2 separate regions of the Homo sapiens genome follow, and region 2 is linked to region 1. The links come from fine-mapping of genetic effects on gene expression. A gene starts in region 1. The other region holds a variant in brackets. All regions are shown on one strand. Distances are between the middles of the regions. Region 1 holds the start of PDE3A (phosphodiesterase 3A). Region 2 overlaps PDE3A (phosphodiesterase 3A).

Region 1 (8,669 bases):
CCATATGATTATAATATGGTACTTTGTGCCCTTTCTATGTTTAGATACACAAAGATTTACCATTGTGTTACAGTTGCCTAGAGTATTTAATACAGTAACATGCTGTACACGTTTGTAGCCTAGGGGCAATAGGCTATACCATATAACCGAGGTGTGTAGTAGGTCACACATCTGGTTTGTGTCAGTATACTCTGTGATGTTCACATGATGAAATCACCTGATGACGCATTACCCAATCTCAGGTATTCTTTCATAGCAACAGTAAACAGACTAAGACAAGCTTCCACCATGTGCCAGGCACTATTCTGGTAATTGGAGATACACAGCAAACAAGACAGCTATTCAGAGTCCTTGTTCACATGGCACTAACACCCTAGTGAACAGAGATAAATGATAAGTGAGAAAACAAATAAACGAACAAGACCATTTTGTATAGTGATAAGTGCTATAAATACAATGAAACAGGGTAGTATGATAGTGAAAGAAAAAGTGTGTATGTGTACATGGGGTGTCCAAAAATTTTTGATAAGATTCTTGGAAAAAAAGCCTTTCTAAAATAAAGTAACATTTGAGGTTAGACTTGATGGAGCACAAGGGGCCAGCTATGTGAAAATCTCTGGATACCAAGGCCCTGAACAGGGTTTCCCATTTCACATGTATGAAGAACACAAAGGTGGCCTGAGGTATTAGAGATGCATTCTCCATTCCTTTAGACACTAGCCAAGTGAATGTATTAAAATTTAAATTAAAATAAAATACAAAAGTTCAGCTCCTCAGTGACACCAACCATGGTTCAAGTATTCAATGGCCACATGTGGTTAGTGGCAACCATGTTGGACAGCAGAGGGTCTATTTGTCATTGAAGAAAGTTCTAATAAATAGTACTTCACCAGTGAAGTAGGAGCATTGGAATAGGAGGAGAGGTCAGAGAGAATTACTTGGAAAGATCATGAAGGTCCTTGTAGGACTGTCATGAGGACTGTGATGAGGACTGCATTCTGCAAGTACGATGGGTAGCCTTTGGGTAGTTTTAAATAGGGGAGGGACATAATTCAATTTATATTTTTAAAGTGTTACTCTGCTATATAGAAAATGAATTATAAGTAGGGCAAGATCAGTTAGTTACTGCACTTGTCCTGGCCAAGGAAGATGATGGGTCTTTGGCAGGTTATTATAAGAGGGACAGTGAAAAGTAAATGGATTTAGAATATATTTTAGAGACAGGATCAAGTGGATTTCCTAATCGACTAAAAGTAAAACAAGATAAACAAAGGAAAGAATCAAGACCCGTTCCCTCTTCTGGGGCCTGAGCAACTAGGTAGATGGTTATGTTCTTTACTGGGATGTAACAAGATTGAGAAAATATAGTTTGGGTGGGTAGGGGATAGGTAGGAAGGGAATTGTAAGTTAAGAATTTTGTTTTGGATACCTTATGTTTTAGGTACCTATTAGATATAAATATATAATAATCAGATAGGTAGCAGAGAATGATTGAACCCATACTACGGAACGTAAACTTACTGAATTTTACAATAGAATCCCCTGACGCTTAACTATATTTAATAAAGCTCAAATGTGAAGGGTTAGATCCTTTTCCCAAAAAACTGTAAAAACATGTTTGCTAGATTTGACTAAGTGGAAGATTTATCAAGTAAAACTTAAATTTTTATTTCTGTTGTCCATGCTCTACTATTTTTCTGCACGTACAACATTTTCCTTATTCTTTGGCTGTGTTGTCACTTTCTTGAACTAGGACTCACCACTATCTGTAGAAAAGAGGCAGTGTTTATATGTGATTGCTCCCTATCCAGTTTATGTATTGCAGCTTATTTCATTTAATATACTCTGTTAAAGGTACATTATTAGTCGCTTCTTTCAGTTAGTATAGCCCTGCAGGTTTCTGCATCTCTCTAACATTAGCATTTTGTTGTCTTTGTTCACTTGCCTCTGGGTTCTGGATGGTATGGGGAGAAAAATCTACCTTCTTTCCTTTTGATGGGACAAATAACTTTTTGATTATGATTTGTTAAAGAAACCTGGATGCCAGGACATTGCCTCCTTATTTTATTGAAGAGTTCCAGGATGTTATTAACACATGGATTTAGAATATTCTTGTTTTGCTGCCATTAGCAAATGCCATTTTTTCCTGTTACAACTTTTAAAAAACATCTGCTTCCCATACCTTAAGTGTTCAGTTTTTATGATAATATTATATTAAATTTTCTAAAGAACTGAGATAATTGTGGGGGTAGGGGACAGATAAAATTGAAATATTCTAAAATTTCCCTTACTATGCTTTTCTTTTTAACCTTGATATATGCCAGATTTTTGGTTTATTATTTTAATATGTTATTTTTGATGCCAACAGATATGAATGATTTTCCAATCAAGGTTTTTCACTCCGATGTGTCCCAGGTAGGATCTGGCATATGAATCATATGTCTAAAAAGGAAACTCATGAAAGTATGTGTGCGTGCTAGGGGGCTCATTTGTCTTTGGCAAAGACATTGCTGCTCCTGTTTCCTTAATTATTAAACAGATGGTGCCCACTGCCATTGACTAGCTGCCCAACTCATACTCCTGTGTGGTAGCACAATTCTGGACATCTGACAGAGAGAAGCTATACCTTTATAGTATATCTGCCTTCTACTAGAACAGGCTGCTTCCCATGAAGCTGTTTAAAACTTAAGTCATCTTCTCCCCCTGTCCCCATAAATTAATTTTATCTCAAGGATCTCCTTTTGGCTTTTTTTATTGCTTCATGTCTACATACAAAATACAGTGGCATATTGAATCAATTATCTAAATGCTCTAGGCTGTAAATACACTTTAACCTGGAATGTCAAGATAATTAAGACAAAATTGGATTATTAAGATTATTATTAGTGAGGGCAAATGACATCTAAGATAGCCATGTTAAAAGTGGAGTATCATATTAAAAAGACAACTAGATCCCAGGGAACATCAATAGAGTTTAAGTCCATTGAACAGATACTGAATTCTTTTTCATAATCTGCCAAAAAAAGGTTAGCTTGAAAATTTTCTTTTAGTTTCTCAAATATCACACTGCTGCAGTACACGAACCTTTACTCATTAATAACTAAGGTCCTGATTTTTTTCATATGCTTTGCTCGAAGATGTAGTATTTTGCAGCCATAGACAGTCTTCTAAGATCTCTCCTAGTGTTAACCCACCTATCCTCACCTCTCCCTTGAGATTTTTCTTTATTTTTTGATGAACTATCTGGGCTTTTAAACTTTGTTAACCTTTTTTGAGGATACGGTCACTTAATCTCAATGTAATTTTACTTTCCACAGTCAAAAACTATTGTGTAATACTCATGCACTGGATTTAAATGACTGCTGCCTCTCCTTCCTTTCTTTTTATACTATTGTGGTCTAGGTAAGGCTGATTCTTCCATCATTTGAACCAACAGGCCAGGCTTGGGTTCTCATAAAGCAGACCTTCCAGCAGGAGCGACCAAAGGATGACACTGTCACCTGAAATTGGACTGCTGTTGTACCTGACTTGGGAACATCTTTGAATCAGACAGTAGAAGTGGCTGTCATTTTCAGGGACAGTAGAAAGTATGTTGGCTCTCATCTGCCAAGTAGGCAAACACAATCTTTTTTTTTTTTTTTTCCTTCCAACGTTCTAGGGAGCTCAGCCTCAGGGCTAGCCGCAGCCCCCCACACCCCGGGGCTGCGGTGGGCTGCGCGGTGGATCAGCCTCAGCAGCCCCTGCTCCAGCCTGTAGGGTGAACCGGCCGCTTTCCCAGCAAAGGAGCAATCGAGCTGAGGGTAGCGCCTCCTCCGCAGGAGGGGGCGGGAGCTCGGCTGAGAAAGCTTTCCTAGGGAGTTGCCTTAAAGAAAGAAAGCGGAATTGTCGATCACTCCAGTTGCCAGTTTTATACAATTTTAAGCAGTCGTCGCCACTCGTTTCCCCTTTGCAAAACTGCAAATCACCACCAACCTTGCATCAAATAGAAGTGGGGAGGGAAAAAAAAAGCAAATCTCCTTCTCCCTTCTCACCCTCCCTTTCTTCTCACCCTCCCTTCCTCTCTTACTCGCTCCTTCTCCCTCCCTCCCTTCTGCGGCTGCCGCTAGTCTCTCGGTCTGGCTCTCTCTCCGACGGGACTTAGCAACTTCTTATTTCTCAGCCCCTTGTCCATTTTTTTTTTTCCATCCTTTGCCATGAATTGGATTGACAGAGGCGGGGGAGGCTTTGCTTTCTGCCCCAGGGAATGGCGATTCGCGTCCTGGGGCCGTGCCGGGGAGAATCGGCCGAGGAGAAAGAAAGAGTGATAGAAAAAGAGCTGCAGGAAGGAGGAGAAGGGAGACCTCCATCTGCCGCGGGCCCGGCGCGCTGCAGCGCAGCGCAGCGCCGAGCTGCGCCTCGGAATGGCCCGGAGCCCGCCCTGCGCCCCCGGCTCCTCCAGCGTCAGCGGCTCCTGCGCGCGGGATGCATTGGGCAATTTTTGAAATCCTGAAGTAGGAAGAGACCCCGGAGGATATAAGTCGGGGGTGGGGGTGGAGCAGAGAATCTGTGAAAGATATTCAAAGAGAGAAAAGGGGAATCCTGATCGTTTCTGCCCGTGCTTGTTTTCAACTTGAGCGTGCTAGCCTTTAACTTGAAGAAGTCTCATTGGAGCATCTAGCATTCTCCAGGAGTTATTCGAAAGCTGAAACTTTCAGTGGATTGTGGGCCTGGGGAGAAGAAGGATTCCGAGGGTGGAATTGGGAAGAGCGTGCGTGCGTGTGTGTGTGTGTGTGTGTGCGCGCGCGCGCGTGGGTCGGGGCGGGGGCGTCGGGGGGCCACTGGGAATTCAGTGAAGAGGGCACCCTATACCATGGCAGTGCCCGGCGACGCTGCACGAGTCAGGGACAAGCCCGTCCACAGTGGGGTGAGTCAAGCCCCCACGGCGGGCCGGGACTGCCACCATCGTGCGGACCCCGCATCGCCGCGGGACTCGGGCTGCCGTGGCTGCTGGGGAGACCTGGTGCTGCAGCCGCTCCGGAGCTCTCGGAAACTTTCCTCCGCGCTGTGCGCGGGCTCCCTGTCCTTTCTGCTGGCGCTGCTGGTGAGGCTGGTCCGCGGGGAGGTCGGCTGTGACCTGGAGCAGTGTAAGGAGGCGGCGGCGGCGGAGGAGGAGGAAGCAGCCCCGGGAGCAGAAGGGGGCGTCTTCCCGGGGCCTCGGGGAGGTGCTCCCGGGGGCGGTGCGCGGCTCAGCCCCTGGCTGCAGCCCTCGGCGCTGCTCTTCAGTCTCCTGTGTGCCTTCTTCTGGATGGGCTTGTACCTCCTGCGCGCCGGGGTGCGCCTGCCTCTGGCTGTCGCGCTGCTGGCCGCCTGCTGCGGGGGGGAAGCGCTCGTCCAGATTGGGCTGGGCGTCGGGGAGGATCACTTACTCTCACTCCCCGCCGCGGGGGTGGTGCTCAGCTGCTTGGCCGCCGCGACATGGCTGGTGCTGAGGCTGAGGCTGGGCGTCCTCATGATCGCCTTGACTAGCGCGGTCAGGACCGTGTCCCTCATTTCCTTAGAGAGGTTCAAGGTCGCCTGGAGACCTTACCTGGCGTACCTGGCCGGCGTGCTGGGGATCCTCTTGGCCAGGTACGTGGAACAAATCTTGCCGCAGTCCGCGGAGGCGGCTCCAAGGGAGCATTTGGGGTCCCAGCTGATTGCTGGGACCAAGGAAGATATCCCGGTGTTTAAGAGGAGGAGGCGGTCCAGCTCCGTCGTGTCCGCCGAGATGTCCGGCTGCAGCAGCAAGTCCCATCGGAGGACCTCCCTGCCCTGTATACCGAGGGAACAGGTAAGCACTGGCAACTCCTCTCTCGGCTCTTGGAAACTTGAAACACTTGGCAACCGGCGCAGAGTGGAGAGAATCCGAGCGCTGGGAACTAAAGGGAAGATAGCCTAGAAAACTGGTCTAACTTCAGAATTAAGAAACTAGCAGGTTTTTTTTTTGTTTTTTTTGTTTTTTTTTTTTTGTTTTTTTGCCCTCTCTTTCACACAGTAGTTTTATAACCTGAACGACTGAAACACAATTAACAAAACTAGATGGCATGTGTAGGGTCTTCCACAGCTGGGCCAACTTTTTAGATCTGCTACACCTGGTGTATGGCTTGCCTACTCTTTTCAGTACTCTTACGCTTTCCTTCCTTAGCAGAAATTTTAGAATTAAGTTTAGATTTTAGCAATGAGTGATTTTTTTAACACATAGATTTTACTAGATTTCTACTTTTTAAAAAGTAAAATCTTTTTAATGAAATGATATTAAACATTTATGAAAACCAGTAAAAAGATTCTAGAGCAAAGCAAGCTGTGCTTGAAGGTGAGGAATTGATACACATTTTCTGGTTTTGCAGTAAGTTTTATTTGGAGAGACTGCAGCTGATGGTGCCCAATTTGTTTTTAAATATAATTTAGGGGCATACATTATTACATGCTAGTGTGTTTTGTATCACAAACTTCAACTTGGGGAATAATATGTCTGAACTTTGGAATTGTTCAAAATTGTCAACTGCGTTTTAGTGTCAACTAAAAACAAAACAGTTCTCTTTAGTATGTGCATACTTAAGTGGATATTTATAAATTCAAATGGATTTATGCAGATTTTACAGGAAATACTAATTCGGGAGGCCATTTCTAAGATTGCTGGAGATGTATATCTTCCCACAACGTGGGAGGAGGAGGAACCTGGGATTATAAAGTTGTAAATAAAACTTTAGTCACTTTTGGGGATGAGTCTCCTTATTATCATTAAGTGATTTAAAACTATAGAACAGTTGCTATAAAGGGCATAAAGGAACAAATCCCAATTTTAAATGCATACGGTGTCTAAAAAAGCATACCGAAGGGTATGCCTCCCTAGTTGAAGCAGATTTGTTCACCTCTCTATTTGAAGTGGATTTGACACTTGATGGGGAGGAGGAGCTGGTTGGATACAGCAAGTGGAAATTTACATTTTTCCCTTTAAATTAATGCCTACCTGTGGTACTATTAGGACAACTTTAGGGAGCAAGAGAATATCCTAAGATAAAGTAAGCTTTTTCTTTTTAGGTTATTCTGTGGATAATCATTTGGGTATTTCTAAGAAATAGCAGTCACCATATGGTGTGGGTGGCTAGTTGGTTTCTGAAATGGAGTTGATTACACAGATCTATGGCTGTTTGACATTATTGAGCAGAGTAGATGACAGCATCATAGTCTGTTTATTTTAAAGCAAATGTAGTTATTTGCTTTTTGTTTCGATAAAACAAATGTTTCTTGTCTTTAAGCTTACTCTAAGAGTGGAGGGGAAAACAGGCCACTGACTGATAGTTTTGGTAAAAATTTGGAAATTGTTAAAATGGAGTAAGTTATCTATTTGAGGGTAAACTAACCATTTTAATTTCTTTTCACAGTTATGGGAGAGAATGTCTTAAATGAAAACACCACCGCTTTAAGTATGTTCAGAATACACTATTCATTAACTTATAGGGAAATAGGATGTTACTATTGCAAAATTCACAACCATAATTTCTAAGGAAAATCTGGGATTTAATCACAACTTGATTCCAAATTGATATCATTTACCCTGTGGAATTATTTTTTAAAATTTTATATTAACATTTATAAGTTAAGAAATTAAGGGTGGATAGAAGATAAGAAGGTGGTTAGGTAAATTAACCAGCAGCATTCATTTAACCCACACATTTTTATTGGGTTTCTCTGGTTTAAATTGATAAATGGAGAATTTGAATTATCTACGAAGTTATCAAAATAAGCATTGCATATTTAATGTTTTGCTGATTAATGCTGTTGGAAAATGCATAATCGCAATCTATTTCTGTAATTTTCTTTGGTCACTATTTTTTTTAAAGACTGTGTTAATGAAGATTATTCTAAAGTGGGAAACTTTGTCTTATGCTTGATGGAAACACAAGAATACATTTAGCAGAAATTGAGATACTTGAAGTTTTAATGAGGGCATGGGTGAGTGTGTGCGTGTCACTGAAGACTGGTTTTTATATATGACCCATTAAAAGTTGTTGCTGAGCATAATTGTGGGGAGTGGGTGGAAACTAACACAGTGTACTATCTTATAAGATAGGACAGTATCTCATATACGTTAGCCTTACTGTGTGAAAAGTTCAGGAGCTACCCACAGTAAATGGCTTATCTGTTTTATCATAAGGAAACAAACTTCTGATTAAGGGTGCAAAGTGTACCACTGTCATTTGCATACTTTGTGAAGTCAAACATCAAAATAATTATAAAATAAGTATATAACACTCCCCTGAATGTCATCTGCTTTTTTTCTGAAGGAATGTCTACTTTCAACTCAAGACAATACTCATAGGCAACAAGTGAATTTTAAATAGTCATTTAAGAACTTAAACGCACAGTCTGTCAGAGTCCTCTTGAGAATTTATTTGCACTTTGCTCATTGTGAGGCTTACCAGTGAGAGAATTTCATCATTTTCTTCTCTGTATGAATGGCAGTGGCTGGTTACTGATGAACTATCCCTCTTCAGTGACCCTCAGTTCCAAAAGTGCAAAGAGAATATATGATAAAAATTCTCATAAGAGAAACCAATTGACAGATACATTTTTCTCTCTCCCTCCCTTTTTTTCTTTCAAGAACTGTAAGTCTGTAGCACTGGTGTCTGTGAATGCAAGTGGAAATA
Region 2 (8,000 bases), 57 kb after region 1:
TGTGTACTCCTCAGAGTTTTATTGGTAATAAAAAAAAAAAAAAAAACCACCCATGCTCACTTTTGTGCTTGGGAACAGAATCTGTTTCTAACCTTTGCTATTAACAGGAAGTGGGAGAGGTGAAATGAGCCCTGGTTTTGTGGCCGGGCCAGAGCACTCTGTGTTCCTGAGAGTGGTATTCAGGTTTCATGTCTGTCTAGCTTCTTGCTCCTTTGAATAGCTGGCCTTTGAAGTGCTAAAAACATAGATTGGTAATGAGCAATGTAAAGTAAAGAGTGGGAAAATATTTGGAAAATTCAAGCTCTGAGAATAGCCTGTCTGGGATGATTTGGCTCAGGCTGTGTTGTAACTGTGTTTTTCTTTCCCAGGTAAATTGTGAAGTTTTATGAATATAATAGTATAAATTTCCTCTATAAGAATAATTGAAAAATCTCAACTTCACTTGCGTTTTTGGTAGAACGATTGCTATATTTAGTTTAAAATTTTAGGGCGGCAGGCCGGGCGCAATGGCTCACGCCTGTAATCCTAGCACTTTGGGAGGCCGAGGTGGGCGGATCACTAGGTCAGGAGATCGAGACCATCCTGGCTAACACGGTGAAACTCCATCTCTACTAAAAATACAAAAAATTAGCCGGGCATGGTGGCGGGCACCTGTAGTCCCAGCTACTCGGGAGGCTGAGGGGAGAATGGCGTGAACCCGGGAAGTGGAGCTTGCAGTGAGCCAAGATCGCACCACTGCACTCCAGCCTGGGCAACAGAGCGAGACTCTGTCTCAAAAAAAAAAAAATTTAGGGTGGCACTAACTGTCGAGTCTTTTAAAAAGATAATCTATGCCTTGAAGTGCCATTTTTATTTTTGTAATTACAAATGGGTATCAGAAGAATGGAATCTAATATGAAGTTGAGGTCATATATTAAATCTAACACCTTTGAATAAAAGTAGACCTTTTGTTCCATTGCATGTTATTATTGAGGGGCCCCCATTATAATACAACAGTGGCCTGTTTTAGAAAATATTCTCTATCAGAAAAACACCATAATTTAAAAAGACATATTTCCACCAAAGTCACATTCTAAAATGTATACAGAAGGACATGGAATAACCGCATATAGACTTAGTGTATCATGTCCCCATTCTTCCAAGAAAATAGGCAAATTTTGTTAAACAGCCCCAAAGGTAAATATGAATATTTTTATATTTTTAGAAAGGTTTGAATTTTAAAAGACAATCTTAGTTCTAGTATGTTTATCTCTTGCCTTGGAGGCAGTTCTTAAAACTATAAAACTTGAGTTGTGACTGTCAGAATCCAACACTTACATGTTTATTTGGAGGACATAATTTTAAAATACTGACATCTTTATCTAATTTGTTATATTATGTTACAGTAATAGTTTAATATTGTAGTGCATGATATTAGACTTGAAATGCTAGAAATCACTGGAATGTATAGCCAATGAAGCCTGGGTTGATTTTTGATATTTTTGGATTATATAGTACCAAATTATAATCCCATATTCTATATTCAGATCTCTGAAAAAAGTGGCCTTTCATTGATCAAAATATATTTATATAAAACATTTTAATGAAGAATACCTATTTATAAAATATCCAGAGGAAATATATGCAGATGTAAAATTGAGCCCAATAAATCCTTGTGTTTTCATAGGTATGAAAGTTACAATAAATAATGGCAATTAGATATTGTGTGTGTCAGAAAATCAATTTTTCTCCCAAATCAATCCCTCTCTTTCTTTCTGTTTCTGTATCTCTTTCACAGACACAATGTAAACACCTATGCATATGTGCTCATATCTGTTTTAGTTGACTTCTTTCTTGAGACTTTAAATTCTGAAATGTTTTACACTGCATGTACAGCTAAGATTAAAGTCTTCTTTTTAACAGTACACTTTTTATAATGCCTTGAACTTGTTTCTCTGTGGCAGAGGAAAACAGCCTCATGCATCTGGACAAACAAAGGTGTTCCTTCAAAAACAGACTTTCAGAATCATTAATTCTGGTTTAGAAATAATTATGAAGGTTAAGTGGACTCTCATGCGTAAGATTTTAGAGCTGGTGAGTGGCTAATCTGTGCTTTACTTCCCCTTGTTTTCATCCTTCTTATACCACCGGTATTACCGTGCCTCCTCTTAACAGTTTTGTTCCCTCTGTAGCAAGTGAGCCAGAGACAGTGCTTCAGCTTCCTATAGCCTCCTGGTGGTATGCAGGGACAGCTGGCTGAGATCATATGCACTTCTACCCAAACATATCCCAAGGTAAGGCTACAGGTAGTAAAGCTGTGACCAGAAGGTAGATTTAAAAAAAAATTATTTAGGTCCTGGAAATATAGAAAGAGCAGATAGTGCCTATAGTAATAACCAAGTGAGCAATAACTAGGGTGTGAGTGGAGTTATTGTGTTTAGTCTAAGAATGAAGAAATAGCAGTGTTCGGTGAAGTGGAATTTGGTGAGGCATATACAAACCAGAGGTAGAAAGTAGTGGATTTTTGCAGTTTCATGCATAACCGTAAGTGCAGTATTAAAAAAATACATATTGCGAAAGTAAAACTTTTAAAGGATACTTCTCAGCTTGAAATTCTTAATACATTGTAGCAATCATATTAGTTCTTGCTGTAAAATAAGGTGGCTATAAAATAAGTTAGTCAATTTTGAGTTGTGAGTTGAAAAGGAAAAAGTAGTGATTAATGGAGACATGAGCTAGGAAAAAGCATTTGGAGAGCGGATAATTTACATCAGTAGGCCTCTCAACTTTTCTTTACCTCCCCACTGCCCTCTTTCAATTACTTCCCTTAGATCACAAGTTTCTGTTTTAGTAGAAAAATTTTTCTATAGATACAAATAGATGTAAGGGAGCATAAATGAATTCCTGATTACTCTGTAAGCTAAGAATTTAAACATATGTTCAGGATTGTATTTTTATAAAAATTTTTATTGCAAATTATTAATATAGATTCACAGATGAATAAAAAATGATGTGGTCCTATTTATGTAAAGCAAAACAAATATTTGATAGGTGGTGTAGAATGATGTTTACACCTGCCTTATGGATGATTTATGTTGGAACTGCTAGGCATACGTGTCAGAATATCTACTTACCAGAAAATCATAGAAAAATATGCAAGTTTATATCACTCACACTGTGGAGAAAACCAGTCAGTAACAAACTGTTAAGTCTTAACAGTGATTATAATATTGAAAAGAACAATATCAACAGTAGAACAACCATATCAAGACAGTGGATCATGAAGCAATGACTATAGGATTCCCTCCTAAATTTCGTTCATTGTAACACCCACACTGTGTTCTGTCTCTGTGCACAGCACAACAAACTCACTTCAAAGCCAAATGAGGACTTGGCATACTCAGGAAATTCTAGTAATGAGATGCTCTTAGTTTTACTGTTACAGTATGTAGCACTTCATCTTAGGCAAATATGACAGTCTGTGGAATCCTGTGTCATTCATTTGAAAGAACTGACAAAAGAACATGTTTTTAGATCAACTTGCATTTGCAGGAACACACATGGGTTGCCAAAAATATCCATTTAGAGTGTTTAAAAGAGGCACACGCCTGGATTGGCCTCGGTGACCAATAATGTCTGGTGGTAATGCGTGTTTTTTGGAGTAGTCTTTAATTACTAAACAAGGTGGTGACATACATAAAGCCAGTGGGTTTTTTTTCCACCGGCAGATGGGTGCTAAAGAAACTGAGCGATTTTATTTTTTTCATCATATAATATTTCTGATGGTCTTGCCTCCTTCAAGTCTCAACATGTGTCTCTTTAAAGAGAATATTTCACCTTTCAAAATGAAGTCTCCTAATGACTCACTTAAATGTTTATTGTTTTCTTGCCGTAAGGAACTTTGTGACTTGTAAATATGAATTTATGTATGCATTTTTGTATGAATAAATACATTTATAAAATTGATATTTAAAAAGAGCTAGCACTTAAGTTAGGCCAGACGTTTTTCTAAGCACTTTACAGATGCTAATTTTCTAATCCTTTCAACAGCCCTGAAAAGTGACTTTCATATTTAGGATTGAATATAAACTCATTCTAAGATTGTCTATAACCTATTTCTGTGTTGCTTAGCATAGTTCTATTTAAGAGAACTAAGACAAACATATAGAAATATGATGATGACAATGATGATATTATATTACTTTCCCAAGTGTCTGGCACTATGCGTATTTCACCAAGCATTTGTAGAGAAGCGGCAGAATATGATGATTATGAGCCTCAATTCTGGAATGAGACTAACCTGGTTTTAAATCCTGGCTGTGCTTCTTACAGGTTGTGTGATTTGTGGTAAGTTACTTAAATTGTCTGTGCTTCAGTTTCTTCATTTGTTAAATGTGT[A/G]TGACACCTATTTCATAGAATTGTTATACAGATTACGTTAATTACTAAAAAATTATTTCGAGCTCTTAGAATAGGGACTGGCACATATTCAATACAAAATAAGTAATAAAATACAGAGGTATGTATTTGAATATTCAAGACTTCTTGGAAGGAAAATACTTAATGCTGTTGAGGAAAATTTTAAGCAATTAGAATGGCAACTAGAAGAGATTTTGTAACAAACTATAGTGGATTATCTCACATATTTATCCCTCATTCAGGCAACTACACATCTGAGTTCTCTGCTTGTTACTAGAGCTCATGGTTGCTGGCTCCGAATGAGAACTGAATATGAAAATTTTCAGTTTGTGAAAAACATCTGGAGCTTTTAGTTGACTACAAGCTTAATATGAGCCAACTGTATGTTGCAACTGCTTAAAAGAGAAAAAAAGAATAAAAAACCCTGAAGAATTCCTTAGGCATTATAAATAGAAATAAGAGTGTCCACATCATGGGAAGTAACATAGTTGACGTACTTCACACTGGCCGCATCACGGCTGGAATACCATGTTCCGTCCAAGACACCATAATTTTAGGAAAGACTTGGACAAACTGGAGTGCCAGAAGTCTGGAAATATGAGAAATGGAGGAAGTGGGACTGTATAGTGTAGAGAAGACTAATAGGAACTAAAACACTTGTCTCCAACTATTTATAAGGTTGTCATTTAGAAAAATGGACACGCTTATATATTGCCCTAGAAAACAAAGAGTAGAATCAATATAATGAAAGTACCATGTATATTTTTACTCAGTATTAAGGGTGAAAACTAATGGGTACCAGTGCTGAGTCTTGCAGCAATCATATAAGAATTCCTGTATATGGCCGAAGCTTACATTCAGTTACATTCACTAAAATAAGATTTTTGCATTCATATCCTCATTGGGCTTGGGCAGTAAAGGAATTAAATCCCCCAAAAGTTCATTAAAATTTTAGGGCTGTTCTATGATTGCATGGATGGTTAAAATTAGACCTGATGGCACTATTGGTTATTCTAAGAAAGGAGCTAAAAGTCTATATAATTGGTTTACTTTTTATTCAGTCTAGTTTTGAAATCTTAAGAATGGATCAAGGAACATTGGATGAAGAAGGGACACAGGGTAATGTTATTTTCCCAAATTTCAGAAATTCTTCCAATTTAGGTTCAGCAGGTAATTAAGAATGATTTCATGCATGTCAGCAAAAATAGTTTGATACAGGACTCATTGAATATTGTATTGTGTTGGGAACTGATCAGAGAAAACCATGGTGTTTGTCCGTGAACTCTCGTTGCTTTTTATCTAAGAGGGGTTGAAATGTTGCGTGCTTTTGAATTTTATCATGGACAATACTTGAGATTTGTACCAGTACACTAAGGGTTATTTTTAAGGATTGAGTAAAATGGAAGTGTATTAATGGGAAATAGAATAGAAGATAGCTATAGTATGACCTTGGAAACTGACTTTACGTTTTACAGGCATGTTTTTCTTTCCATATTTCATTCTTGTATCTTGAAATAAGCTGTACTTATGGTTAGGTATATGCTAGATCTTAGAATTCCTTTAAATTCATCTTGTCAAAATATCAGCCATTCTGTATGAATATTACCAAGTTTAAGACATTGGTTTATGTTCAATTTCAGCAGTTTGTATAACTGATTTGAAAAAGCAATAAATAGGCTTCAAAATTTTATATTTTTTATAGGAAACAGGTAATTTAATACATTTAATACATTAATACATTTATAATGTATGTATTTTTTCATGAGGTAGACTATGTAAAAAGTAAAGAAGATGATCTAAATCCAGAATTAAAAGGCACAGTCACATTTTTTTTTCTTTTGCAGCATTGGATAGTATCAGTTTGTTATAATCTAGAATATATAATATATTCTGTTTTTACATTTCTTAACTAAATCCTCTTTTTAAAATATAAATAAATATCTTTAAAATAATATTTTAGGCCGGGCATGGTGGCTCATTCCTGTAATCCCAGCACTTTGGGAGGCTGAGACGGGCGGATCACGAGGTCAGGAGGTCAGGAGTAATCCCACATCGTTCAAGTCAGTAATGAATTTATTTGAATCAAAAGTGGATACATTTAAGGAATTGTTTCTATACATCCAATTAGGTAATTCTGGTTGGCTAAATTGAGAGCTGGTCATAATCCCAAAAGACACAATTCTGAATGTCATAATTCTGAATGTTAAAATCCCAGAAGAGTAAAATCTCTAAAGTCTAAAATCCAGAAAATCACAATCCCCAAAACATCAAAATCCTGAAAATGTAATTCTGAAAAAAATTAAAATATTATTATTAGTAGTAGTAGTATTTTTGAGACGGAGTCTCGCTCTGTCGCCCAGGCTGGAGTGCAGAGGTGCGATCTCCACTCACTGCAAGCTCCACCTCCCGGGTTCAGGCTATCCTCCTGCCTCAGCCTCCCAAGCAGCTGCGACTACAGGCGCCCGCCGCCACGCCCGGCTAATTTTTTTTGTATTTTTAGTAGAGACGGGGTTTCACCGTGTTTGCCAGGATGGTCTCAATCTCCTGACCTCGTGATCCGCCCGTCTCAGCCTCCCAAAGTGCTGGGATTACAGGAATGAGCCACCATGCCCGGCCTAAAATATTATTTTAAAGATATTTATTTATATTTTAAAAAGAGGATTTAGTTAAGAAATGTAAAAACAGAATATAGGCCACTTTACACAACAAAATATGCAATAACAACATACATGCTTTTGCACATATAAACACTCAAGTATGCTAATGACAGTCATACTGGTATAATAGTTATGACAAGATGAACTGTCCTTATAAAGAAGTAGGTCAAAAAAGGACAATGTATAAATGCGTACCACTATGATTGATAGTTGTGTGCAACAGCTTTCTAACTTTGGTCATCTGAAATAATATAATGAGCAACCTAAGTCTTTTGACAAGATCCATCAAAAACTGTGATAGGTTACCAACATATATGTAGTCACCCAAAGAGCTGAGATCTCAAGAAATTTTATATTTCACAAATGCAAATGTACAAAAGAACATCTCTTCATTTACTGAGAAAATTTCAATGTTTTTACATACGTACACAACACTTAACACAAAGTAAACATAGTTCACTTCTGTGAAGTCGAATTTGCAAAAAATGCATAAAACAGAACTCTCAAAGTCTCTATACAGTTTATACCTCCAGTAATGGAAACGATGTGAAGATGAAATACATAACATAGTGAATTGCTTTACGGGGTTTCTAGGTATTCCTCAATCCTGTAAAGTTGACATCTACAATTAAGCCCATACGTTCTAGTGATAAATAGAGGTCAGAAAAATAGCATACGTGGGTTTGGCTTCTGTTTTCCTTCTTTTTTTCTTCAGTTATTCTTTTGACTGTGTTTTCTTATTATTAACCCTTGCCTCAAATTGTTCCCTGGGAGAGTGCTGCAGGCTACAGCCCTTTTTCAAATGGTGAAAAATTTGAGAGAATAGTGGTATGAAGAACATTTTGAATGCAAGGCTGTTTAGTTGTGAATATTGCATTGATCACATCTGTGTTTCTGAAGCTCTGTGACTTGCTCTCCTAAGCCTAGAGCAATCTTCACTGAACTAAC

Evidence for each region. PIP is the estimated chance that this variant, and not a neighbour inherited with it, causes the effect.
Region 2: its variant is the best candidate, but not a certain one, in a credible set for the expression of PDE3A in subcutaneous fat (GTEx, PIP 0.52).

The regions. Positions count from the first base shown.
Region 1 is chr12:20,364,436-20,373,104 of GRCh38, forward strand. It overlaps PDE3A (phosphodiesterase 3A), which reads left to right and starts at 4,102. Exons shown (of 16, transcript NM_000921.5): 1 at 4,102-5,809. The coding sequence starts at 4,850. It overlaps PDE3A-AS1 (PDE3A antisense RNA 1), which reads right to left and starts at 5,821. Exons shown (of 2, transcript NR_186033.1): 1 at 5,406-5,821. RefSeq lists a silencer at 5,140-5,434.
Region 2 is chr12:20,421,570-20,429,569 of GRCh38, forward strand. The region is part of intron 1 of PDE3A (phosphodiesterase 3A); the gene reads left to right. Among named protein-coding and RNA genes, the nearest start is that of PDE3A-AS1, 55 kb to the left of the region's middle. The variant A/G (reference allele first, on the strand shown) is at 4,378.